Regions from separate parts of the Homo sapiens genome. Here all the other regions are linked to region 1. The links come from fine-mapping of genetic effects on gene expression. A gene starts in region 1. Each other region holds a variant in brackets. All regions are shown on one strand. Distances are between the middles of the regions. Region 1 holds the start of WTIP (WT1 interacting protein). Region 2 has its middle 9.2 kb from the start of CHST8. Region 3 overlaps UBA2 (ubiquitin like modifier activating enzyme 2).

The links.
Region 2: its variant is fine-mapped to the expression of WTIP in monocytes after LPS (Fairfax 2014, PIP 0.95).
Region 3: its variant is fine-mapped to the expression of WTIP in lung (TOPMed, PIP 0.95).

What each region holds. Positions count from the first base shown.
Region 1 is chr19:34,477,939-34,486,117 of GRCh38, forward strand. It overlaps WTIP (WT1 interacting protein), which reads left to right and starts at 3,820. Exons shown (of 8, transcript NM_001080436.2): 1 at 3,820-4,703. The coding sequence starts at 4,037. RefSeq lists enhancers at 2,893-3,547, 3,548-4,203, 4,204-4,858.
Region 2 is chr19:33,608,651-33,616,829 of GRCh38, forward strand. No RefSeq gene overlaps it. Among named protein-coding and RNA genes, the nearest start is that of CHST8, 9.2 kb to the right of the region's middle. The variant T/G (reference allele first, on the strand shown) is at 3,450.
Region 3 is chr19:34,441,194-34,449,372 of GRCh38, forward strand. UBA2 (ubiquitin like modifier activating enzyme 2) reads left to right here. Exons shown (of 17, transcript NM_005499.3): 7 at 2,651-2,718; 8 at 3,807-3,928. Among named protein-coding and RNA genes, the nearest start is that of UBA2, 17 kb to the left of the region's middle. The variant T/G (reference allele first, on the strand shown) is at 5,016.

The DNA.
Region 1 (8,179 bases):
TTATAGCTTGAAATTGGCCATGCTGGGAGTATTTATACCATGGTAATTGGCAAATGCTACACATCAGGGCTCCTGATTTATACAAATTCCTCCCCAGAGAGCTGGTTGTTAGACATTTACCAGCACACCACTGGACTCAGGAGGAAAATGCCCAGAGAGAGGTGAACACAAAGAACATTCCTGCAACAGGGGAGGACAGAGGGGGAATCAGTGGGGGCTGGACATTGAGTCCATGGACAGTGCTTTAAATCCCTTGAGAGAGCCCCATCCCCATCCTTCTCCTGGACTGTGCATCTCAGACAGAAGGAGCCAGTCTGTTGAGATCACTCAATACCCCTGGAGTGAGGAGATAGAAGATGGGGTCAGGGGGACATTTGGGTAATGTAGAGATGAGACCCCACAATTCTGCAGACTACTTCAAATCCACCTAACATCACAATAGTCTGATTCCCAAGCCATTCATTAAATCTTTTGAATATAACTGCTTAATGTATTTCCCACTTCAAGGATGTACTTAAACTATTCTAATGGTAAATATCAAACATTTTAGGTTGTTTCTGGGTTTTGTAGTTGTCATTTATTACTAGTAGAGCAAGTAATAGGTTTTAGCTGACCCTGGATGTGAATATAGTTTAAATCTTGAAAGCTCTAAGTGGGCAGGTGGGGAAAGAACAGTTGTTATTATTATTATTATTATTATTATTATTATTATTATTATTATTATTATTCTGGAGGCAGGGTATTGCTGTGTCACCCAGGCTGGAATGCAGTGGTGTCATCTTGGCTCACTGCAACCTCTGCCTCCTGGGTTCAAGCGATTCTTGTGCCTCAGCCTCCCAAGTAGCTGGGATTACAGGCGTGCACGACTACACCCAGCTAATTTTTGTATTTGTATTTTAATAGAGACAGGGTTTCGCTATGTTGGCCAGGCTGGTCTCAAACTCCTGAGCTCAAGTGATCCGCCCGTCTCAGCCTCCCAGTGTTCTGGGATTACAGGAGTGAGCCACCGTGCCCAGCCAGAACAGTTATTAAATACTTGACTTTATTGTTTTTGTAGAGACAGGGTCTTGCTCTGTCACCCAGGCTAGAGTGTGGTGGCACAGTTATAGCTCACTGTAACCTCAGACTCCTGGGCTCAAGTAATCCTCCCGCCTCTGTCTCCCGAACAGCTGAACTACAAGTGCCCGTCACCGCGCCAGTTTAATTTTTTGTTTTTTATTGTAGAGATGAATCTCGTTCTGTTGTCTAGGCTGAAGTGCAGTGGTGCCCTCACTGCTCACTGTAGCCTTGACCTCCTGGGCTCAAGCATCCTCCCGCCTTAGATTCCCAAAATACCTGGGACTACAGGCATGTGCCACCATTGGCAGCTAATTTTTAATGTTTTGTAGGGATGGAATCTCACTATGTTTCCCAGACTGGTCTTGAACTCTTGGCCTTAAGCAATCCTCCCATACTGGCCTCTCAAAGCACTGGGATTACATCACACTCAGCCCAACAGCTGCCTTTAAATGCAGAGAGCTCCCTTTGAGCATCTTTTCAGAAGGCTGGAGATCCTAGGACAGAATAGATCAGGGGTCCCCAACCCCTGGGCCACAGACCAGTATACCACCGCCTGTTAGGAACTGGGCCACACAGCAGGAGGTGAGCAGAGGCGAGGGAGCATTACCACCTGAGTCCCACCACGATTCTCACAGAAGCACGAAGCCTATTGTGAACTGCGCATGCGAAGGACCTAGGCTGTGTGCTCCTTATGAGAATCTAATGCCTGATGATCTGTCACTGTCTCCCATCACCCCCAGATGGGACCGTCTAGTTGCAGGAAAACAAGCACAGGGCTCCCACTCTTTCTATGGTATAGTGAGTTGTATAATTATTTCATTATATATTACAATGTAATAATAATAGAAATAAAGTGCACAATAAATATAATGCCCTTGAATCATCCTGAAGCCATTCCCACCCTCCCCATCCCTGTCTGTGGAAAAATTGTCTTCCACAAAACCAGTCCCTGGTGCCAAAAAGGTTGGGGACCGCTGTAGATTACCTAAATGATGTTGGGATTATACGACACGGTTGTGATTGGATTATTGTCTGCATTTTTGATAACTTCCCTTGAATAGATGTTTAGCAGCAGTATTACTGCTTCTAAGTTTCGTGTTCGTTTGTGCGGATGTTGACACCGCCAAACTGCTCTTCCCAAAAGGATATCCCAATTTGCACTCATACCAGTAGCATATGTGCAACTGTTTCACCACAGTCCTGCCAATATTGTAATTTTTAAATAGTAGATAATGCAGTCCATGAAATGTGATATGACTGAACTGGCTTTTCCTTTCTCATTTGAAAGGTAGACCATTTTTCATGTCCTGGCTTCCCTGGGTATTTGCTCTCCCAAATGCTGGCTTCTAGACCCCGCACGGAGTCTCATGCCTGTAATCTCAGCGTTTTGTGTGGTGGTGTGCGCCTGTACTCCTACGTACTCAGGAGTCCGAGGTGGGAGGATTGCTTGAGCCCAGGAGGTTGAGACTCTGGGGTGTGTGTGATCACTGTGAGCTGTGATCACACCACTGTACTCCAGCCTGGGGGACAGAGCGACACCTTGTCTGAAAAAAACAAAACAGCGCAACTCCCCCACCCTCCGCGCACACGAAATGCTTGCTTCCACTTCCCCTACCCTGGTGGGGCAGGGGCTGGAACTCCGCAGGCTATGGGAAGGTGCTGGGGTTAGCGGCCCCAGCGGGTGCTCAGTGGTGTTGAGGCCACACTGCCCTGGGCGGTCTGGCCGGGACAGTTCCCGTGCGGGCTCCCTGCGCGCTGAGCCACTGTAGGCGCCTTCCCGAAAATCTCTGAGCAGAGAGGGCCTGGAAAACAGTACTCTCTCACGCAACACTTTTCTTGGATCCATCAGGCCCTGACAGATAACGGTTTGGTTTTCTTCCCTATAGCCGTGTGACTTGTACAAGGGATTTTAGTTGTGTCCTTGGGCACGAAGCCCTAGTCACCTCTCGATTCCCCACCTATGTGGCCCCTATGGCCCCGCTGGTTCCAGGACCTCCCCTCGAAGCCTCACCCACCACCCTGGATGCAGGTGCTGGAAAAGGGAGGAGTCCCCATATTTCACGGGGACTGCCTGTGATGGCCACAGGGGAGGCTCGCCGCCCACCGGCTCTGAGCCTGAGGCCTGCTTCTAGCCTGGCCTTGGGGGCCTGGGCGAAGCGACCCAGCGCGAGGACCAGTCCCCAACCAACCCGCTCCTAGTTCTGGGCGCCTTCCCCAGCAGTCAGATGGGGGCTTCAGAGGCCGGTGCGCGGCCACATGGCCCCGGGCCAGGCAGGGGGTCGTGGGGACGCATCTGCGCTAGGCGCACAGTATTCCTGGGCGCGGGACGGGCGAAGCGCCGTGGGTTCCAAGCTGAGCTGGGTCGGCCCTGCAGCGCCGGAGAGCAAGGCGGCGCAGGGAAGGGAGATGGGGCGGGATGTGGGGAAAGCTGTCGACTGCTTGGATCTCTCCGGCCCGGATGGCGCCAGCTGCCTCCAGCTCAGCCTGCGGAAATCCGAGCTCTTCCCAGCGGCCCGACGGCCCGGGCGCCCCGCAGACCCTGGGCTCTCCCCGCGGTGCCTCCGCCGCCCGCCCCTGCGTCCTGGCCCGGCCTCCACGCCCCTCCGAGGTCCCGGCGCAGCGCGGCCGCCGCCACTCCCCCCACATTCCAGAGGCCGCAGCGCCGTCTCCTTCCTCGCATTCCTGCCCCCGCAAAGGAGTCCCTCCGCCCCGCGCGAGGCCGCGGCGAGGAGGGGGCGCGGCCCGGCGCCTGGGAGCTTACATTCCTCCGCCGCGCGCGCCGCCGAGCAGGGCGCCGCGTCCCCCGGCCCGCGCGTGGCCGCCGGAACGACCCCGGCCCGGCGCCGGCCCCGCCCCGCCCCGCGCCCAGGGGTCCCGGGGCGGGCTCCGGGCTTCGGGCGGACGATGCGGCGGCCCGGCCGGAGCGGCGGCGGGAAGCGGAGGCGGAGGTGACGCGCCAGGGCCGGCGGGCCGGGCCATGCAGCGCTCCAGGGCGGGCGCGGACGAGGCGGCCCTACTCCTGGCCGGGCTGGCCCTGCGGGAGCTGGAGCCCGGGTGCGGCTCTCCCGGTCGGGGGCGGCGGGGGCCGCGGCCTGGGCCTGGAGACGAGGCGGCGCCCGCGCTGGGCCGCAGAGGGAAGGGCAGCGGCGGCCCCGAGGCCGGGGCGGACGGACTGAGCCGCGGGGAGCGGGGTCCCCGGCGCGCGGCGGTTCCGGAGCTCAGCGCGCAGCCTGCGGGCAGCCCACGGGCCAGCCTGGCGGGGTCCGACGGCGGCGGCGGTGGCGGCAGCGCCCGATCCAGCGGCATCAGCCTGGGCTACGACCAGCGCCACGGCAGCCCGCGCTCCGGTCGCTCGGACCCGCGTCCCGGTCCCGGGCCGCCTTCGGTGGGCAGCGCCCGCTCCAGCGTTTCCAGCCTCGGCTCCCGGGGCTCGGCCGGCGCCTACGCTGACTTCCTCCCGCCCGGCGCCTGCCCCGCGCCCGCTCGCTCCCCGGAGCCTGCGGGGCCGGCTCCCTTCCCGCTGCCTGCACTCCCGCTGCCCCCTGGCCGGGAGGGCGGCCCAAGCGCGGCCGAGCGGCGGCTGGAGGCGCTCACCCGGGAGCTGGAGCGGGCGCTCGAGGCGCGCACGGCGCGGGACTACTTCGGTGAGCTCGCTCGGCCCGGCAGTTCCCTGCGCGCATGGCTGGGGTCCGGGGTTCCGAGACTGCCTCGGGTAGGCGGCCGGATCAGCGGAGGAGAGCACGGGGCTGGCTGGGGGTGCAGCAGTGCACGGGGTTGGGACGAGGAAGGTGCATCCCCTGGGGACTGGGGAGCGCAAAGGGTGAGTGAGTGCGCCTGGATCCCCAGCAGCGGCTTCACCCCTGCCTCTGGGTCCCCCGACACACGAGGGGTTCTGGCCGAGTGAGTTGATGTGCGGTTCCTAACTTAACAGGCAAGTCAGGTTCATGGGCACACTGAGCCATTTTCTGATAATTTTTTCTTCTTTCTTCTTTTTTTTTTTTCTTTCTTCTTTTTTTTTTTTTTTTGAGACAGGGTCTTCCTCTGTCGCCGAGACTGGAGTGCAGCGGCGCGTCCTCGGCTTACTGTAGCCGTCGCCTCTCAAGCTGAAGCGATCCTCTCGCCTCAGCCTCCCGAGAAGCTGGGACTACAGGTGCACACCACCATGCCCAGCTTTTCTTCTTCTTACTTTTTTTTTTTTTTTTTTTTTGTAGAGACAGAGTCTCCCTATGTTGCCCAGGCTGGTCTTAAACTCCTGGGCTCAAGCGATCCGCCCTCCTCGGCCTCCCAAGGTGCTAGGATTACAGGCTTGAGCCAGTGCGCCCGGCCTGATCTTTTCTTCTTTGCGTTTGGTGCTCTCATTCTATCTGATCCTTTCATGCTTCGTGATGAGCAGAAAGGGGTGCTTCCCCGTCTGCCCCGCCACGGTATGGGTGTGGACAGCAACCGGGAGATGGAGTGGCCCAGGTACCACCGGATACCGCCTGACCCAGGCTTTGGTGATGGTAGCGGCTGGAGAGGGAGACTGTGTGAGGGAAGAAAAGCCCACTTTGCGGGAGAGGGGAACCGTGCCAGTCACACGGGGCTGCCCTCGCCCGGACTGTGCTGTGGACATAGGATGTTTCCTAAAGGAATCCTGCTGCAGGTGCATCTGCAAAGCCCAGCAGCCTCACAGCCTCCACTTCCCAGTGTGGCCCAGGCCCCCTGATCTCTAGTTCTTGGGACAGCTCTTGGGGTGAGATTGTGAGCGGGGCAGAGGTATACTGTGGGGCCTGGGGCGAGAACTTCCCAACCCGCCTTCTGTATTAAGCACCTGGCTTTGGTGGATGGATGGTCACCATGCCTGGGACCGTGGCTGTCCTGGGGTTTGTGTCTTTGAGCGTTCAATGGTGTCAGCAGCTCACGGCTGCCCTGAACTGGATCTTTTTTTTTTTTTTTTTTTTTTTTTTTTGAGACGGAATCTCGCTCTGTCGCCAGGCTGGAGTGCAGTGGCGTGATCTTGGCTCACTGCAACCTCCGACTCCCTGGTTCAAGCGATTCTCCTGCCTCAGCCTCCCCAGTAGCTGGGATTACAGGCATGCGCCACCACGCCCAGCTAATTTTTGTATTTTTAGTAGAGGCGGGGTTTCACCATGTTGGCCAGGATGGTCTTGATCTCCTGACCTCATGATCCGCCTGCCTCAGCCTCCCAAAATGTTGGGATTACAGGCGTGAGCCACCGTGCCCGGCCCTGAACTGGATCTTGAGGGGTGAGGAGTCTGTCAGTGAGGGGCCAGGTGGGGGCATTCCAGAGAGAGGGAAGAATGAGCAGAGGAGGCCAGGCGGGATGAGAGATTGCCCCGCTCTTCCCCCTGGGGTTGCAGCCCAGAGGGCTCAGGTGGTCGAGGGCATATGTGGGCTAAGAGGAGGTGCGCCTGCTTTGGGATGGAGAGCGCCTCCCATCTGTGAGGTCATGGTGAGACTCTGTGGCTGGGCAGGTCTCGTGGCGCCTGTTGGATGGCCTGGGAGCAGGGAGATGTGCCAGGAGCTGTCATCTCCCGTGTCAGGCAGGTGCCAGGAAGAGAGGCTGGGGCTGAGTTTTGAAGGGCATGCTTTCCAGTGCCCTCTGCAGGGGAGAGTGCCCATTTCCCGGCCCCTGTGTACTGCAGAGCCCGGGGGAGGGGGGTGTTCTGTAGACACCCCTGAATCTTTATATGATATAGGGGTGGCTGAGGTCCCAGGCAGGTAATGTGGAGATGATACAAGAAGGTAGGGTGTGGTGGCACATTTTTTTTCTGAGGAGCTGCTAGGCCGGGTGCGGTGGCTCACACCTGTAATCCCAGCACTTTGGGAGGCTGAGGTGGGAGGAGCACTTGAACCCAGGAGTTCCAGGCTGCAACGAGCTATGATCGTGCCACTGCACTCTGGCCTGGATGACAGAGTGAGATCCTGTCTTTTCTTTAAAAAAAAAAAAAAAAAAAAGCTGCTCAGATCGGGCTGTTGTAGCGCCCTGAGAGTGTTAGAGGAGTGATGATAGACCTTTTTTATTTTGTTTTCAAGAAAAACTAGAAATTGAGATTCAGTAATACTTTCCTGATTTTGTTTACTTTATTTTTTTAAACTTTTTTGAGACGGAGTCTTGCTCTGTCGCCCAGGCTGGAGTGCAATGGTGCGATCTCAGCTCACTGCAGCCTCCACCTCCGGGTTCAAGTGATTCTCCTGGCTCAGCCTCCCCAGTAGCTGGGATTACAGGTGCGTACCGCCATGCCCGGCTAATTTTTGTATTTTTAGTAGAGATGAGGTTTCACCATGTTGGCCAGGCTTGTCTCGAGTTTCTGACCTCAGGTGATCCACCTGCCTCGGCCTCTCAAAGTGCTGGGATTACAGGTGTGAGCCACCATGCCCGGCCCACTTTCCTGATTTTAAAAAATATGGGCAACTATTTGTTTGAACTATATGGTTCTGATGATATTTGACTTTGTTGAGCTACAAAAGTGGCAGTTTCATAGAGTTCAACCAGAATAATACAGCATTTTACAAAAGAAAATCTGCAGGTAGCATAAGCTCGAGTGATCTCTGATAAACCTCGTCCTCAGAGTGTGGCTTTTTTGTTTTAAATTAATTTTTTTTTTTTTTTAGAGACAGGGTCTCACCCTCTCACCTAGGCTGGAGTGCAGTGGTGAGATCAGCGCTCATTGCAGCCTTGAACTCCTGGGCTTAAGCAATCCTCCTGCTTCAGCCTCCTGAGTAGCTGAGACCACAGGTGTGCATCACCATGCTCGGCTACATTTTTTTATGTTTTGTAGACCTGAGATCTTGCTTTGTTGTCCAGGCTGGTCTTGAACTTCTGGATTCAGGCGATCCTCCCTCTTTGGCTTCCCAGTGTTGGGATTACAGGCGGGAGCCACTACGCCTGGCCAGAGCTTTTTTTCTCTCTGTCCAACCCCTCATCTCTTCCTGTCCTTGGCCCTGGTACCAGCTGACCTCTTGGTTGCTCTCTGCCATTCACTGATGTCTTTGGAACTTTCCCCTCTCCCCTCCCCAAGTTCCGCTGCCATTAGCCAGCCAACAGCCTTGGGCTTCCGGAACCTTTTCAACTTTGGTGACCTCCTTGCCTTCTCTTCAGCCACCCACTCCCAGGGCC
Region 2 (8,179 bases), 870 kb before region 1:
ACTTAAATTCTTTCTTATTCCTGAACTCCTTTTTCTCACCAAAAAAAATCCTAGTTCTCAAAGGCCCAGGAGATGACAGAATTGAAATACACAAGAATTACTTATTTCCTTTATCCCATATTACACACACAGCATTCTTAGTATAAAATGCCAATACTACTTCCATCAACATCATTATTGAAAACAGTTAAAATTTTTTTATTATGCTTTTTTTCTGCATGCATTTCTTATTCTCTTATCCCTCAATTTATAAATAACTGTACTATATCTATATTGTCAGAGAATATAGCCATTATATACTATGCTTTTTTAAAATTTTCACTTATTCTTAATTCTGTAAATTATATATTTAATGTTCACCACCTTATGTTGATGTCTCTCTAGACACTTTGTTTCTCTGAAGTTCATTCTCTAGTGAATTCCTCAGGAAGGAATCATGGGAACAATATTTCCTGAACTGTTACATACTGATAAGTTTGTTTGTACCCTTTATACTTGAAAGTCAGTTTCCCTGAATATAAGATCCTTGGCTCACATTTTATTTTCTTGAGTTATTTAAATATGTTACTCAATTTTCTTCTGGCACAAATGTTGCAGTCAAAAAGTTGATGATAATCCAATTTCCAATCCCTTACAAATCATGGGCTATTTTTGCTTAGACACTCAAAAGATTTTTCTTTTCCTTTGAAGTTCTATCATTTCACTAAATTCATGCCTTGGTGTTAGTCATTCTGGGTCAGTACTCTCAGGAACATGGTGTGACTTTTCAATATGTAGTTTGAAAACTTTTTATTTCTAAATAACATAGTACCTTTTTGAACTATAGCTTCTAGTATTTGTTCTGATCCCTGCTTTGGGTTTTTCTTCAGGGAACCCTGTTCTCTGTATGTTGGATCCTCTTTACCCAACTTCGAGATTTGTCACTTTCTCCTGAAGCCTTTATATCCTTGCTCATTTCTTAGATTTTTAAAAATTTCCATTTGTTTCATTTTCTGTTTCTTCTGAGGAATTATCTCTTGTGTTTATTCACTCTTGCAATCTTTCTAGGTTAGTCTTAATTTCTGAAACTTTTTTCTTTTAAACTCATTTCCCCCCCTAAATTTGTTAATTTCTGAGTTTTTCTATTTCTGATTTATGTTGGGTTTTTTTGCATCTTATTTTGTTTAAATAATTGCTTCTAGCTTGTCTTAAAACAGTAGGTTATAGTTTTTTGTTTTGCAGGCATATCTTTTGGCATGTTTTTCATTATCTGTGAAGATGTTATTCTATTTCTTACTCTTTTTAAAAAAAAACTGTATAGAGTAGGACTTTGATCTTTGCCTGCTGCTCATTTTTGTAAAGGTGAAATTAATTTTTCTGAACTTAAAAATGGGGTTGAGTTCAAGACAGCTTTTATAACTTCACAAAGCTTTCTCTTTTGTTGTTTTCATGCACTGTTAAAAAATATGGCAGCTTATTTTATTTTATTTTTTTAGATTCCTGGTTCTTATAAAAATGTCTCTACTTTTATCTGGATACTCTGCTTCCTTCCCCTCTATCATTCCTGCTCTATTCAATTTTGTTTCCTGTTTCAGCAGTGTCTTCTTGATGTGCAGCCTTGTCCTGGAAGGATGACCTGGCTGGTCAGTTTCAAGAGTTCACAGGGGCTATGCTACTCCATCCTCTTCTCATCTTTTTACATGAGGCCCTTTGTACTTACACACTAATGGAGTGAGCAAAACCCTTCCCGTTTCAGCTCCTGTTGTGAAGCTGGATCTCTGTACTTTCCAGTGAATGAATACCTATTGCCTCTTTGGGGTTACTCCTTGTCTTAGTCCATTTTATGTTGCTATAACAGAATATTGAGTAATTTATAAAGAAAAGAGGTTTATGTGGCTCATGATTCTTGGGGCTGGAAAGTTCAAGATGGAGCAGCTGCATCTGTGAGGGCCTCATGCTGCCTCAACTCTTGCCTAAAATGGAAGGGAAGTGGGGATGTGCACAAAAAGATCACGTGGCAAGGGGGTAAGCAAGAGGGAGAGAAACCAAGGAAGCCAGACTCTTTTTGTCATCCTGCTCTCATTGTAACTAATCCATTCCCTCATGAGCAAGAACTCAGTCCCTAGAGAGGGCATTAATCTACTCATGACTCAAACACCTTTCACTGGGCCCCACCTCCCAATGCCACCACATAGAGGATCCAATTTCAACATGAATTTTGGTGGGGACAAACAAGTCACATCCAAACTGCAGTTTCCTGTTCTTAGAGATGACAAACACCCTGTTTCTTCCCTTTGATTCCTTCTGTATGCATACTAATACTATGCCAGTTTAATAACTGTTAGTTACAAAATAGGCAGTCCCTACCCACCAATATTTTGGTGTTTTAGGGGATGCATTGCCCACTAGTTTTATTGTGAGTGTTTCCCATAGGTTTTTGGTTTTGCTATCTAGTTTGTCTGTTTTTTATTAGTGGCATATTCAAAATGATGCCCCTAACACTGTTGCCATCTTCTCAAAGACATCCCAGGAAGAACTTCAATATTGACAATTTAACATCCTTAAGGAATGCGTTGTAACAACCAAACTGGAGGAGAAAAAGTATGTAAACAGTAGTTTGCATAGAGTGTCTTGTGCTGATTATGACACTGTAGCAGGTCTTGTTGATGGCTTCCCATATCTGCTCAGCCCACCCGAGCTCAACCTCAGGAGGCAGTTGTAATCTCAAGCACCTACATCTCTCTTCTTCTTTACCAGGGACTTTCCCTGGTACCATCAAAGCTTGCCAGCCTGCCTTGTACTTCCTGAGATCACTCCCAAACAAGCTGCCTGAACCCATGTGCTTGTCTCTTGCCTCCTTTTGGGGGAACAAGCCAAGGTAGACACCAAGTTGTGTTCCAATAGCCTGGCCTGATTCAAGCATCTCTCATGTAGTGTAATGATATGGTTTGGCTCTGTGTTCCCACCCAAATCTCATGTCGAATTGTAATCCCCACTGTCGGAGGATGGGCCTGGTAGGAGGTGACTGGATCATGGGGGTGGTTTCTAATGGTTTAGTACCATCCCCCTAGTGCTGTTTTGTGATAGAGTTTTCATGAGATCCGGTTGTTTAAAAGTGTGTAACACCTCCCTCTTCTCTCTCTTCCTCCTGCTCCCACCAAGTAAGATGTGCCTGCTTCTTCTTCCACCGTAATTGTCAGTTTCCTGAGGCCTCCCCAGAAGCAGAAGCCTGTACACCCTGCAGACCTGTGAGCTGTTAAACCTCTTTTCTTTATGAATTACCCATTCTCAGGTAGTTCTTTATAGCAATGTGAGAACAGACTAATACATGCCATCTGGTTATGATTTTCAAAAATGGAATAATGTTAGCTTTATATATATATATAAATGTGTGTGAGTGTGTGTATGCATATATGTGTGTGTATATGTGTACATATAAAATATATATTATATATGTGCATATATATATA[T/G]AGAGAGAGAGAGAGAGAAAGAGAGAGAGAGAGATAGGGTCTCACTCTGTCATCCAGGATGGAGAGCAGTGATGCAATCATAGCTCACTGCAGCCTCAAAATCTTGGGCTCTAGCAATCCTCCCACCTCACCCTCCTGAGTAGCTGGAACTACTACACCACACCTGACTAATTTTTGTACTTTTTGTAGAGACAGGGTCTCACTATGTTGCCCAAGCTGATCTCAAACTCCTGGCCTCAAGTGATTGTCCCATCTTGGCCTCCCAAAATTCTGGGATTACAGGTACAAGCCACTGTACCTGGCAGCTTAATATTTTTGATGACCTTTGGTGAGAAATCTGTTTAGTCTACATAAATTAAATGCTTATCTTTCCTTGTCTACACCCTATTTAATTCCCTCCAGAGGCCCTGATTGATTAGTGGCCTGCCCCAGACATTGTCTTTCCTAAATGCTAGGTTTGTTTTCCAGAATTCAGCAATCTTACCTTCTAATTGCAGGTTCTATTTTTTTTTTTTCTTTTCTGAGCACGGAAGTGAGATTGCTTTATCTGTAGGTGTCAGGGTATCCTCTGTGTTTAACAAAATACGTGTTGAATCATTGTCTCCTTGGTTTTTATGACTGAGAGTCTTATTATAAGTGAGGCCATGCCAGGTGAGACTAGGTCAGGGCAAATGCGACCTTTGATGCCTGATTCCCAGCGCAGACAACTCAGCCACCTTGTTCATGGCTCCATCCCAGTCTGCCTTGCACTCTAGTTAAAGTCTGTCTGTCCCTGTCTGTCTATCTGTCTGTCTATCTGTCTTCCAGCCTTCCTCCTTGAGGGTGAGCTGCATTACCCCTTTGCACTGCCCACCGCCTGCCCCCCACAACCTGTCCCTTGCAGTTCCTCAGCAAGACCTTGGCTGGACAGTCTGTGCCTGAAGGCAGATGGCCCAGACACCAGTAAAGGGAGCTGGGCTTTGCCTCCGAGCCTGCCTCCAGCTAGGGCTTGGGCTTGGGCACCATCTTAGCACATCTGTAACTGGGGCTGAGCTGGCCCATGCTGTGTCCCCCTGAATCTTGGGACAAGGCACCAATGCAGGAACAGGCGTGAAGGGTGCACTCATCAGAGCCCAAGACATCACTGCAACAAGAATGCATACAGGAAGCTCTCTCTGAGGACAGGGACGGGGGACGGAGTGTGACAGGTTCCACACTGCGATATTCATGGCTGCCTCCGTGCCATAGGGCCCCTTGCATGATGTCAAAAGAGGAGACTTGCATCGTCTTGTTGTTTTCAAGCTAACTTTAAACACAACTGACAGCAAGATGTCTCTGGCACGAAAGCCAACAGGGAGGCGACTGTCTCTCTGTTTCCATAGCTACAGACAGGACGCCACTGGGCAGTGCTTTCAACTCCAGGGCATCCCAGGCTCTGCCTGAGGGATGAAGTTTCCTGGGTGCTGGGAGAACCCAGCCACAAAATGGCAGTTGCTGGTCTCAGTTTCTGCCCCAACCACCTTCTATTTTTGGTGAGAGAGTATCATTTTTCCAGATGTCCAAGGGTGTCCATTCAGAACACACTTCTGCAGCCAGGAATCTGGGAAAGCCGGAGATGTCTCCATAAACCTTCTGCAGGCCATGCCATCTGCTGACCTTGACACCTTCTCTGCACTGGAGGACGGCTTAGCAAAGCTGGAAAGGGGGTGTCCCCTGGGAGCCTGGCTGGCTGGCTGTCACTTGCTGAGCCAGGGACAGAAGGAGTTGACAGTACATTTTAGTATTACCTGCTTCCAATTTGGAAAAAATTTTGTGCATCTCGGTTTTTCCAGTTTCTCCTTCACCTCTGTGGACCTGTAAAATAAGGATTTGAGCACATCCCTCCAAAGCTAACTTGTAAATTTCCTGTTGCACTGATATGGTTGGGCTGCTTCCCCACTCAAAATCTCATTTTGAATTGTAATCTCCATAATCCACACGTGTCAATGGCAGGACCAGGTGGAGGTAATTGGCTCATGGGGGCAGTTTCCCCCCATGCTGTTCTCGTGATAGTGAGCGAGTCTCACGAGATCTGACAGTTTTATAAGCCTCTGATATTTCCCCTGCTTGCACTCACTCCATCCTGCCGCCCTGTGAAGAGGTGCCTTCCACCATGATTGTAAGTTTCCTGAAGCCTACCCCGCTATGCGGAACTGGGAATTAATTAAACCTTTTTCCTTTATAAATTACCCCATCTTGGGTATTTCTTCATAGCAGGGTGAGAACGGACTAATACATGCGTCTTCCCGCAGGAGAGTGGATGGCAGAGGCTTACCTTCAGGGGCCCAGGTCGGGTGCTGGACATGGGGCTGGCATTCCAGGTCTGCTGCTCTCGGATGTCCCTCTGAGGGGCATCCTGCCTGATGGGTGGGCTCCCCCTGATCTTGTCTCCTTGGATGCATCATCTGTGAGGCTTTTGTTTTCAGTCCCAGTGGAGAGATTCATACTGCCAGGCACTGTGTGGGCTCCTGTGCGTTGTGAAAATAACGCTTATTCAGGACTGCCTAGGGAAGAAAGGCCATACCTGCTGCTGTTTTTCCATCTCTGCTGTGGCCGCCCACATGGTTTACGGCACAACTTGCCTATGCCAAAAGGGACTGAGAAAACCTGGAAACCTACCAACTACATTTGGGAGATTTTTTTTTTTTTTTTTTTTTTTTTAGAATGTCTGTCTCGGGCAGGCAATAACTAGTACCGAGCTTGGTGACCCTTTTGCTTTCTAGCTCTGGGGGTGCAGATCTGAGCCTCCTCCAGAATGCAGTCCCCCTAGCCTGGCTATGACACTACCACTGGTGTGTCCTTGATGCCACATTTCTAAGCCCATCTGATCATAAACCTCCCTGGGGCAGGGAAGTCTCAGAGTGCACTTCCTCACCTAACGGCATGCCTCCAGTGGCATCTGATAAATGCTTCTGCAGTGTTCCTGGGGAAACAGTTTTATTCATTTCAAAGTAATCCTTTCTTTCTTCTCAAAATCTCCAAACCCAATCCTTAAAACCAAGCATTACATTTAGAATAGAATTCAAGTTTGGATTTTAAAAAATGCTTTTAAGTACGTCAGGAACTCAGAAGATACTTAAGCCCAACTTTCCTACCACATGATGGAAAGACACTTGGAAAGGACAGAAGAGTTTTGTTGTTGTTGTTGTTGTTGTTTTGAGATGAAGTCTTGCTCTGTTGCCCAGGCTGTAGTGCACTGGCATGACCTCAGCTCACTGCAACCTCCGCCTCCCCAGTTCAAGCGATTCTCCTGCCTCAGCCTCCAGAGCAGCTGGGACTACAGGTACGTGCCACCATGCCCGGCTAATTTTCTGTATTTTTAGTAGAGATGGGGTTTCACAGTGTTAGCCAGGATGGTCTCAATCTCCTGATCTCGTGATCTGCCCGCCTCAGCCTCCCAATTCTGAGATTACAGGTGTGAGCCATCGTGTCCGGCCAGGACAGGAGTTTTGAAAATGCACTCTGGGCTCTGATTCTGGAAAGGAGATCCTGACTTCAGAGGCCCTGCTGCCCTACTCAGACTCCAGAAGGTTGAGTAAAGTTGAGCAAGCTACAGCCACTCTGCTCTGGGAAGCCAGTAGCAAGTGCTGAGCCTGGACAATTTGAACTAAGCCAGAGAGCTCTCCAAATTAGGGAGCATTTAAATAGAAGTGCTGTTTATTTAGGTCATATAGTAATTTCCTTATTTTAATCGCTACCCCAGTTAATGACTAACAACATATAACCAAACAAGGTTAGCCCAGCCAACTTGACTGAATAGAGAGAACTATTTATAATGAGCTCATTCGTATCTGAATGCAGATAGATGCACAGAAGGACTCCAATGTTAATAGAAGTCAAAATCCATTTACTGTACAAGGTGGGGGAGATGTTCCCCCTGCAAGCCTATTCCCACTGCCTTTGACTGACAGTAAAAAAGTAAACTTCAGCCTGGCCGTGTATGACGTGAGTGCTGAATTAGTTTGGTTCCAATTAAATAGGATTTACTGAATTGTGACATGGACATATTCTAGAATTTTAAACTCTTTACCCCAAAAGTAAAAAGAAGAATCTCTACTATTTCTGTCAAGAGCGTCTTAGACCCCCTCCTGCAGTTCATCATCACCTTAGACAGTGTCCTTCGCCCCACCACGGGCAGGCCTGGAGAAGGAGCCCCGCCACTGGAGGATCATCCGTCTCAAGGATACTTGGGAACTGAAGGAGTGACCAGGAGCAGGCAGTCCAGTGGAGATCTTTTTTTTTTAATTAAGAAGCATCAAAATGAACTTGAGTTTGGCAAGACCTCAATAGAGTAGCCAAGCTGGCTCCAAGCCTGGTTTGCATGGAGGGGCTGGACTTGGCTTGGGCATGGCTCTGTCTTGGGCTCTGGGGTCAGCAAAGCCCCCTGCAGGCCTGCCCACCTCAGGCTGTGGGGAGCGCATCAGGGCCACCAAGGCAGTGAGTGGTCTGCAGCTCTAGGGATGGCGACCCATCCTAGAGAGCCAACAGCTGCCCCCAGAGTACTCGAACCTTATTCCCTGGTTCCTGCCTTCTTCCCTCCTGGGTACTCAGCGCCTCTCTGCTCTGTTGGATTCCCCAGTGTCCTTTTAAGAAAGTCTGGCAGGGCATGGTGGCTCATGCCTATCATCCCAACACTTTTGGGAGGCCAAGCAGGAAGATGACTCAAGCCTAGGAGTTCGAGACCAGCCTAGGTAGCACAGTGAGACCCTGTC
Region 3 (8,179 bases), 37 kb before region 1:
GCCTGTAATCCCAGCACTTTGGGAGGCTGAGGCGAGCGGATCACGAGGTCAGGAGATCGAGACCATCCTGGCTAACACGGTGAAACCCCATCTCTACTACAAATAAAAAAAATTAGCCGGATGTGGTGGTGGGTGCCTGTAGTCCCAGCTGCTCAGGAGGCTGAGGCAGGAGAATGGCGTGAACCCGGGAGGCGGAGGTTGCAGTGAGCTGAGATTGCACCACTGCACTCCAGCCTGGGCGACAGAGCGATACTCCGTCTCAAAAAAATAAAAAATAAATAAATAGATAAAATTAAAAATAAAAAAACTTCTTACTAAAATGAGAATGTTCTCAACCCGATAAAGGGTATTTTGTAGAAACCTTCAGCAAACATTGTCTTTAATTTTTGCACTCAGAAAAGTATACATAACAGTGTCAACTTGATAAATGTTCACAAAAACTACACTTGGAAGCTTTATTTATTTGGCAAACATTTTTTTTCTTTGGGAGGCTGAGGTGGGTGAATCACTTGAGGCCAGGAGTTTGAGAACTGCCTGGGCAACATGGCGAAACCCTGTCTCTACTAAAAATACAAAAATTAGTGGGGTGTGGTGGCACACGCCTGTAGTCCCACCTACTCGGGAGGCTGAGCCATGAGAGCCGCTTGAACCTGGGAGGCGGAGGTTGAAGTGAATGGAGATCATGCTACTGCACTCCAACCTGGGGGACAGAGCGAGACTGTGTCTCAGAAAAAGACAAAAAAAAAAAAAAGATAATGTGGCCAGGTGCAGTGACACACACCTGTAATCCCGGCTCTTTAGGAGGCCAAGGCAGGAGGATTGCTTGAGCCCAGCAGTTTGAGAGCAGTGTGGGCAACATAGTGAAACCCCATCACTACAAAAAATTTAAAAATTAGCAAGGCATGGTGGCACATGCCTGTGGTCCCAGCTACTTGGGAGGCTGAGGTGAGAGGATCACTTGAGCCTAGGAGGTCGAGGCTGCAGTGAGCTGTGATCACACCACTGCACACTAGCCTTGGGGACAGTAAGACCCTGTCACACACACAAAAAAGATAATCTGGCAAAATTAATATGAGCAGCATTTTTCACTCGAAGGGAAACCTAAATAAGCAATAAGCAAGTTATGTTTTAATCATAAGACTTACTTGGAAAATTAAGTATAAGACCATAGTAAGCTACAGATGCTTCTCAGATACTTCCCGATAAACTCATCATAAATAAAAAATACCATTAAGTAAAAAATGATGCTTTTTTTGTTGTTGTTTTTTTGAGATGGAGTTTCGCTCTTGTTGCCCAGGCTGGAGTGCAGTGCAACTGCAATCTCTGCCTCCTGGGTTCAAGCGATTCTCCTGCTCAGCCTCTCGAGTGGCTGGGATTACAGGCGTCTGCCACCACGCCCAGCTAATATTTGTATTTTAGTAGATACAGGGTTTCACCTTGTTGGCCAGGCTGGTCTCAAACTCCTGACTTCGGTTGATCCACCCGCCTCGGCCTCCCAAAGTGTTGGGATTACACATGTGAGCCACCACGCCCAGCCAAAAATGCATTTTAATATAACCTCAATAAACCTGTTGTAAAGGTGAAAAATCATTGGTGGACCATTTTAAATTAGCGGCTGTCTACTATTTTGCACTCACTAGTTGGCAAAGCGTTAATTTTAGGAAGTGTTAACATGCCATTGTTGGGAGTGACTATCAGAGCTTTGAAATTATAGTTGGGTGGGGGGTTGTACAAAGGATTTCTGTAAGATAACTTTCATTAATCATATACTTGAGGAAATACTGGAAACTTTTATATCCATGAGTTATTAAACAGTTTTTAGGATAACTTTATTAATAAAAGAGAATCTCAGCTTAATACTTTCAAATTGTTTGTTAACACTCTGTTCAGCAGTAAAGAGCCATTCTACCATGAAAAAAAGTTAATCTTGTTCATTGCTGAATTTCTATCCCCTAGATGGGGACTCTGCACCTGAGGTATATAATAATGTTTGTTGAACAGGTAGCTGCAGGTGTAAACACAAACATTATTCTGGTGTTAGAATGTTATCCAGGTTGTAAGTGAAAACCACTCACCTGTTTCTTGAGCAGAGGTTTTAACATTGAAATGTGCAGAGCCTCGCTGATAGGAATGGATGTAGGTCTGCTAAAATTTAACCTTGCTTACATTGCTGTTGAAATTGGGATGCAAGCTGTCCAAGCACATTGTGTTAAACTTTTAAGTTTATAGTCATTTATCCGTTATTCACTTTTTTTTTTTTTTTTTTGAGACGGAGTCTTGCTCTGTTGCCCAGGCCGGAGTGCAGTTGTGCAGTCTCGGCTCACTGCAACCTCCATCTCCTGGGTTCAAGCGATTCTCCTGCCTCAGCTTCCCGAGTAGCTGGGATTACAGGCGTGCGCTACCACGCCTGGCTAATTTTTATATTTTTGGTAGAGACGAGGTTTCACCATGTTGGTCAGGCTGGTCTCGAACTCCTGACTTTGTGATCTGCCTGCCTCAGCCTCCCAAAATGTTGGGATTAAAGGTGTGAGCCACTGCGCCCAGCCAGTTGTTCAGTCTTTATCTCTGCTAAATATTTGGAATATTCTAAATTACATGTTTGTTTAGAATGCTTTGTTATACAGAAGTATTTACTATTCTTAAATTATAGCCAGTTGTTTGGGGAAGAAGATGCTGATCAAGAAGTATCTCCTGACAGAGCTGACCCTGAAGCTGCCTGTGAGTAAATTATTTGGCATATGTTTTATCAGATACTATTATCTTTATTTTGTTGATTTAATTTTGGTAGCTTAAGGGAAAAAAATTGCTATATGTGCTAGGTAATGTGTGTTTAACATGTGTTTTTTTTTTGTTTTTTTTTTTTTTTTTTTTTTTTGTCTCAGAGGTGGAGTTTCTCTCTTATTGCCCAGGCTGGAGTACAATGGTATAATCTCGGCTCACTGCAACCTCCGCCTTCTGGGTTCAAATGATTCTCCTGCCTCAGGCTCCTGAGTAGCTGGGATTACAGGCACCTGCCACCGCGCCCAGCTAATTTTTGTATATTTAGTAGAGACAGGGTTTCACCATGTTAGCCAGGCTGGTCTCGAACTCTTGACCTGAGGTGATCCACCCGCCTTGGCCTCCCAAAGTGCTGGGACAGGCGTAAGCAACCGTGCCTATCCAAAACAATGTTTTACAAAAAAAATATGATTCCGTTTTACTGATGAGGAAATCAAGGTTAAGAGAAATTTCACAAGTCTAGTAAATAGAGCTGCGAGTTGTTCCTAGATCTCATGACTGGTCTGTGCTTTGAACTGTTATATGTGTAGCTTTCAGAAACTAAGTTACAACAGGCCAGGCAAGGTGGCTCACGCCCGTAGTCCCAGCATTTTGGGAGGCTGAAGCAGCTGGATTGCATGAGGTCAGGAGTTTGAGACCAGCCTGGCCAACATGGCAAAACCCTGTCTCTACAAAAAATATAAAAATTAGCCAGGCATGGTGGTGCATACCTGTAGTCCCAACTACTTGTGAGGTTGAGACGGGAAGATGGCTTGAGCCCAAGAGGTAGAAGCTACAGTGAGCCGAGATCTTAACACTGCACTCCAGCCTGGGCAACAGAGTGAGACTTTGTCTCCAAAAACAAGAAAGAAAGAAACTGGGATACAAAAAGATGCTGATGAATGTGTTATTTTCTTATTCCTTGAACTCAGAATGTGTTGCATTTGGGGATTTCCATGAGTGACTTTCTTTTTATTCCCAAAGGTGAGTGAAAAGAGTTCAGTTCTACATTTATTACGGTTGAAAATAAAATAATGATCGTTTTATAGGGGAACCAACGGAAGCCGAAGCCAGAGCTAGAGCATCTAATGAAGATGGTGACATTAAACGTATTTCTACTAAGGAATGGGCTAAATCAACTGGATATGATCCAGTTAAACTTTTTACCAAGGTTAGATTTACTTTTTTTATAATCATGGATAGATGTATTGTTGTGCATAGATGTATTGTTCTAGTTCTGCTTGTTTTAAAATAGTCCATAAAATTGAATTAAGCTTCTATGTATATGCCTTGTGATGTCCTAATAAAATGATTGATGCAGTCAGGATATGCAAGTTTTAAAATGTTACCATCTACACTAAATCTATCAGTATAACATCTAAATAGGAGGTAAAATGAGAGGTGGCTTGTATACCTTCTTGGTTGTCTTTCCTTCTCTCACTTTTTACAGAACTTCTTCGTTTTCCTGCTGCTTCTCATCTTCACTTTTTTTTTTTTTTTTTTTTTGAGATGGAGTCTCACTCTTGTCGCCCAGGCTGGAGTGCAGTGGCACGATCTCGGCTCACTGCAGCCCCGCCTCCTGGGTTCAAGTGATTCTCCTGCCTCAGCCTTCCGAGTAGCTGGGATTACAGGTGTGTACCATCAGGCCTGGCTAATTTTGTATTTTTAGTAGAAGCGGGGTCTCACCATGTTGGCCAGGTAGGTCATGAACTCCTGACTGCAAGTGATCTGCCCACCTTGGCTTCCCAAAGTGATGGGATTATAGGCGTGAGCCACTGCTCCTGGCTTCATGTTCACTTTTATTTCTTGCTCATATCTGCTATTAGCAGTTTGACTGACATGTGTCCTAAATTGCCCTTGAACCCCATAAGCCCCTTTTTCTTGGTGAAATCCCTCTTCATCAGTAGTATATACTATTTGCCTGTTAAATATTTCTAGAGAAATCTGTGAAATTGTTTTTATTGGGTCTACCTAATTATTGTTCATCTAGACCCGTAGGTCCGTGTTTTAAAAGTTTTTTTGTTCTGTCTTGACTCCCTAGCAAGTTGTACGTGTGTGGGGTTTTTTTGACTCTTTTTTTCCTTTTTGTGGAGAATGGGGTCTCACCATGTTGCCCAGGCAGATCTCAAACTCCTGGTTTCAAGTCTCAAACTCCTGGGTTCAAGCGATCCTCCAGCCTCTGCCTCCCTAAGTGCTGGGATTACAGGCATGAACCACTGAGCCTAGCCCCTAGCAAGTTTATCACAGAGCTTAAAACT[T/G]TCTCAGCTCTTATCAAACTGCCTCAGTATTCTTGCAACTCTCACTAAGCAGATGACCTTAAGGATATAATAACAGGTTTGAAACCATTGGACATAATTTACCTGTTGAGAGACTGTTCCACATAACCGAAAACTCTTTTTCTTTCTGCTGGAGAGAATCCACTTTCGGTAAAGGCTAACTTTTGCATGTGGTGTTTTGCTTTCCTTTTGTACCATTCTTCAGACAGGATTTTCGTCTCTGTCCTGTGTCTCGGATCTTTTTTTTCTTGGTTTCTTTTGTCTGCTTTCCAACACGCACAGGTTCTGCTGTCTTAATCAAATGACATACTGCTCTCCCCAGCTTGTATTTCGTCTTATTTCCTCAGTGGTAACAGATGTCACATGTTGACTTTTTTTTTTCTTTCTTTTTTTTTTTTTTTGAGAGAGAATCCTGCTCTGTCGCCCAGGCTAGAGTGCAGTGGCATGATCTCAGCTTGCTGCAACCTCTGCCTCCTGGTTCAGGCTATTCTCCTGCCTCAGCCTCCTGAGTAGCTGGGATTACAGGTCCGCCACTATGCCTGGCTAATTTTTGTATTTTTAGTAGATAGGGGGTTTCACCATATTGGCCAGGCTGGTCTCGAACTCCTACCTCAGGTGATCTGCCTGCCTCGGCCTCCCAAAGTGCTGGGATTACAGGCATGAGCCGTCGTGCCCAGCCCACAGGTTGACTTTCTTATCCCTATTGCATTTATTTCCTCACTACAGCCCTTTTCTAAAACATGGTTGTATTAGGGTTCTCTAGAGGGACAGAGCTAATAGGATAGATATATACAAAGGGGAGTTGATAGAGTATTAATTCACACGATCACAAGGCCCAACAATAGGCCCATCTGCAAGCTGAGGAGCAAGGAGAGCCAGTCTGAGTCTCAAAACTGGAGAATTTGGAGTCTGATGTTTGAGGGCAGGAAGCATCCAACATGGGAGAAAGATGTAGGCTGGGAGGCTAGGCCAGTCTAGTCTTTTCATGTTTTTCTGGCTGCTGTATATTCTGGCCTCAATGGCAGCTGATTAGATGGTGCCCACCCAGATTAAGAGAGGGTTTGCTTTTCCCAGTCCACTGACTCAAATATTAATGTCTTTTGGCAACACCCTCACACACACACCCAAGACCAGTACTTTGCATCTTTCAATCCAATCAAGTTGACACTCAGTATTAAGCATCATAATGGTTTTTATTTTGATTATACTTAAGATGCCGTAAACTTCGATATGGTCAACAGCAGTATCTTCCAAACCAGTATCCTTATTTCCATTCCAATCTGAGCAAGACTTGAAAGCCAGAAAAATCTGAAGTGCATCTCCAATCTGTTATTTAGCAGATAATTTTAAACATCTGCTGTGTGCCAGACACCTCTTTAAGTACAGGGGATTTAGTTGTGAACAAGACAGAAGACAGAGTCCTTGCTCTTTAGAGGGAGTTCACAGTCTAGATGAGAAGTCAAACTTTGAACAATAAATTTCAGCTTCAGAGTCTTAATGACATTAAGTTCAGATGCTTTGCAGCCCTTGAATAATAAGTTTCATCTAAAGGACTCATCTCCTGGCCTGCATACCCATTTCAGATGTTGTTAGGGAGAGGCTTCAGAAGAGGCTTTCTAGAGCAGGTGACATTTAAGCCCAAGGCTTGAAAGAATAAGAGTCAGAATAGGGTACAGTATGTACAAGGAAACTCTGAATAGGGTACAGTATGTACAAGGAAACTCTCAGTTGGAAAACTGACATAAATCCCATTAAGGGGGAGAGTGGAAAAAGATGACTGGAGAGAGAAGTTGAGGTCAGATCAGGCAGACTTTCTAGGCCTTCTTAAGGATGTTATAGCAAGACAGTGGGAATCCATTGAAAGGTGGTCTTACAGGATCACTATAAGGGGATAGAGGGGATGCACATACTACCCTAGGATCTGATATTCATATTATAACCAATCTGGGACAGTGCCCCTGGAGTTGTGCAGTGCCAGAATAATCTGGAGTACAGCCATCTGTACTCCCACTGGAACATGGAGGAGTAGACTAAACAGGACTTTGCATGTATATGGTGAAGATCAGTGGAATAAAAAATGGTACCTGGCTGGGCACTGTGGCTTACACTTGTAATCCTAGCACTTTGGAAGGCTGAGGCGGGAGGATCACTTGAGGCCAGGAGCACAAGACCAGCCTGGGCAATATAGCAAGACCCCATCTCTAAAAACGAAAAAAAAATAGCCAGCCATGGTGGCCTGAGCCTGCGGTCCCCAGCTACTCAGGAGGCTGGGACAGGAATATCACTTGAGCCCAAGAGGTTGAGACTTCAGTGAGCTATGGTCACACCACTGCACTTCAGCCTGGGCAGGTCAAAGAACAGAGGTGCTGTTCTCCGATATAAGTGAGCTGGGAGGCAGATGTGTGTAGAGGGGTTGGGGGAGGGTAGGAGAAGGTGATAATAATCAATTTTGAACTCATTTGAGATTCTTTTGGAACATTAGAGAAGTGGTTTTGTAGATAAGTAGAGAGGTTTCAACTAGGGATATGGTTGGGATTCCTAGGTTTATAGATGTGGTTAACTACTGGAAATGGACATGATACACCACAGAGGACAGAATGAAAAGATGGTTCAGTACAGAAATCTGAGGGGCTCCTGATATTTAGTAATAGTTGAATAGAAGAGATGGAGCTTAGGCTTAGAAAACTGTTGGTTCAAGCCTTCAAGATCCTCTACAAAATGTTTCCAGCCACATTTGTTACCCAAGTCATAGTGGATTCATCTCCTTGCCTTTGTACCCATTTCACATGTTGCTGTCATAAGGAGACTCTTTCCTTATTTCTTAGATAAAATATAAATCTTTTTTTTTTTTTTTTTTTTTTTGAGACTGAGTCTCACTCTGTTGCCAGGCTGGAGTGCAGTGGTGCGATCTCAGCTGACTGCACTCTCCGCCTCCCAGGTTCAAGCGATTCTCCTGCCTCAGCCTCCCGAGTAGCTGGGATTACAGGCACGCGCCACGACGCCCAGCTGATTTTTGTATTTTTAGTAGAGATGGGGTTTCACCATGTTGGCCAGGATGGTCTCGATCTCTTGACTTCGTGATCCACCTACCTTGGTCTCCCAAAGTGCTGGATTACAGGTGTGAGCCACCACGCCTGGCCAGAAAT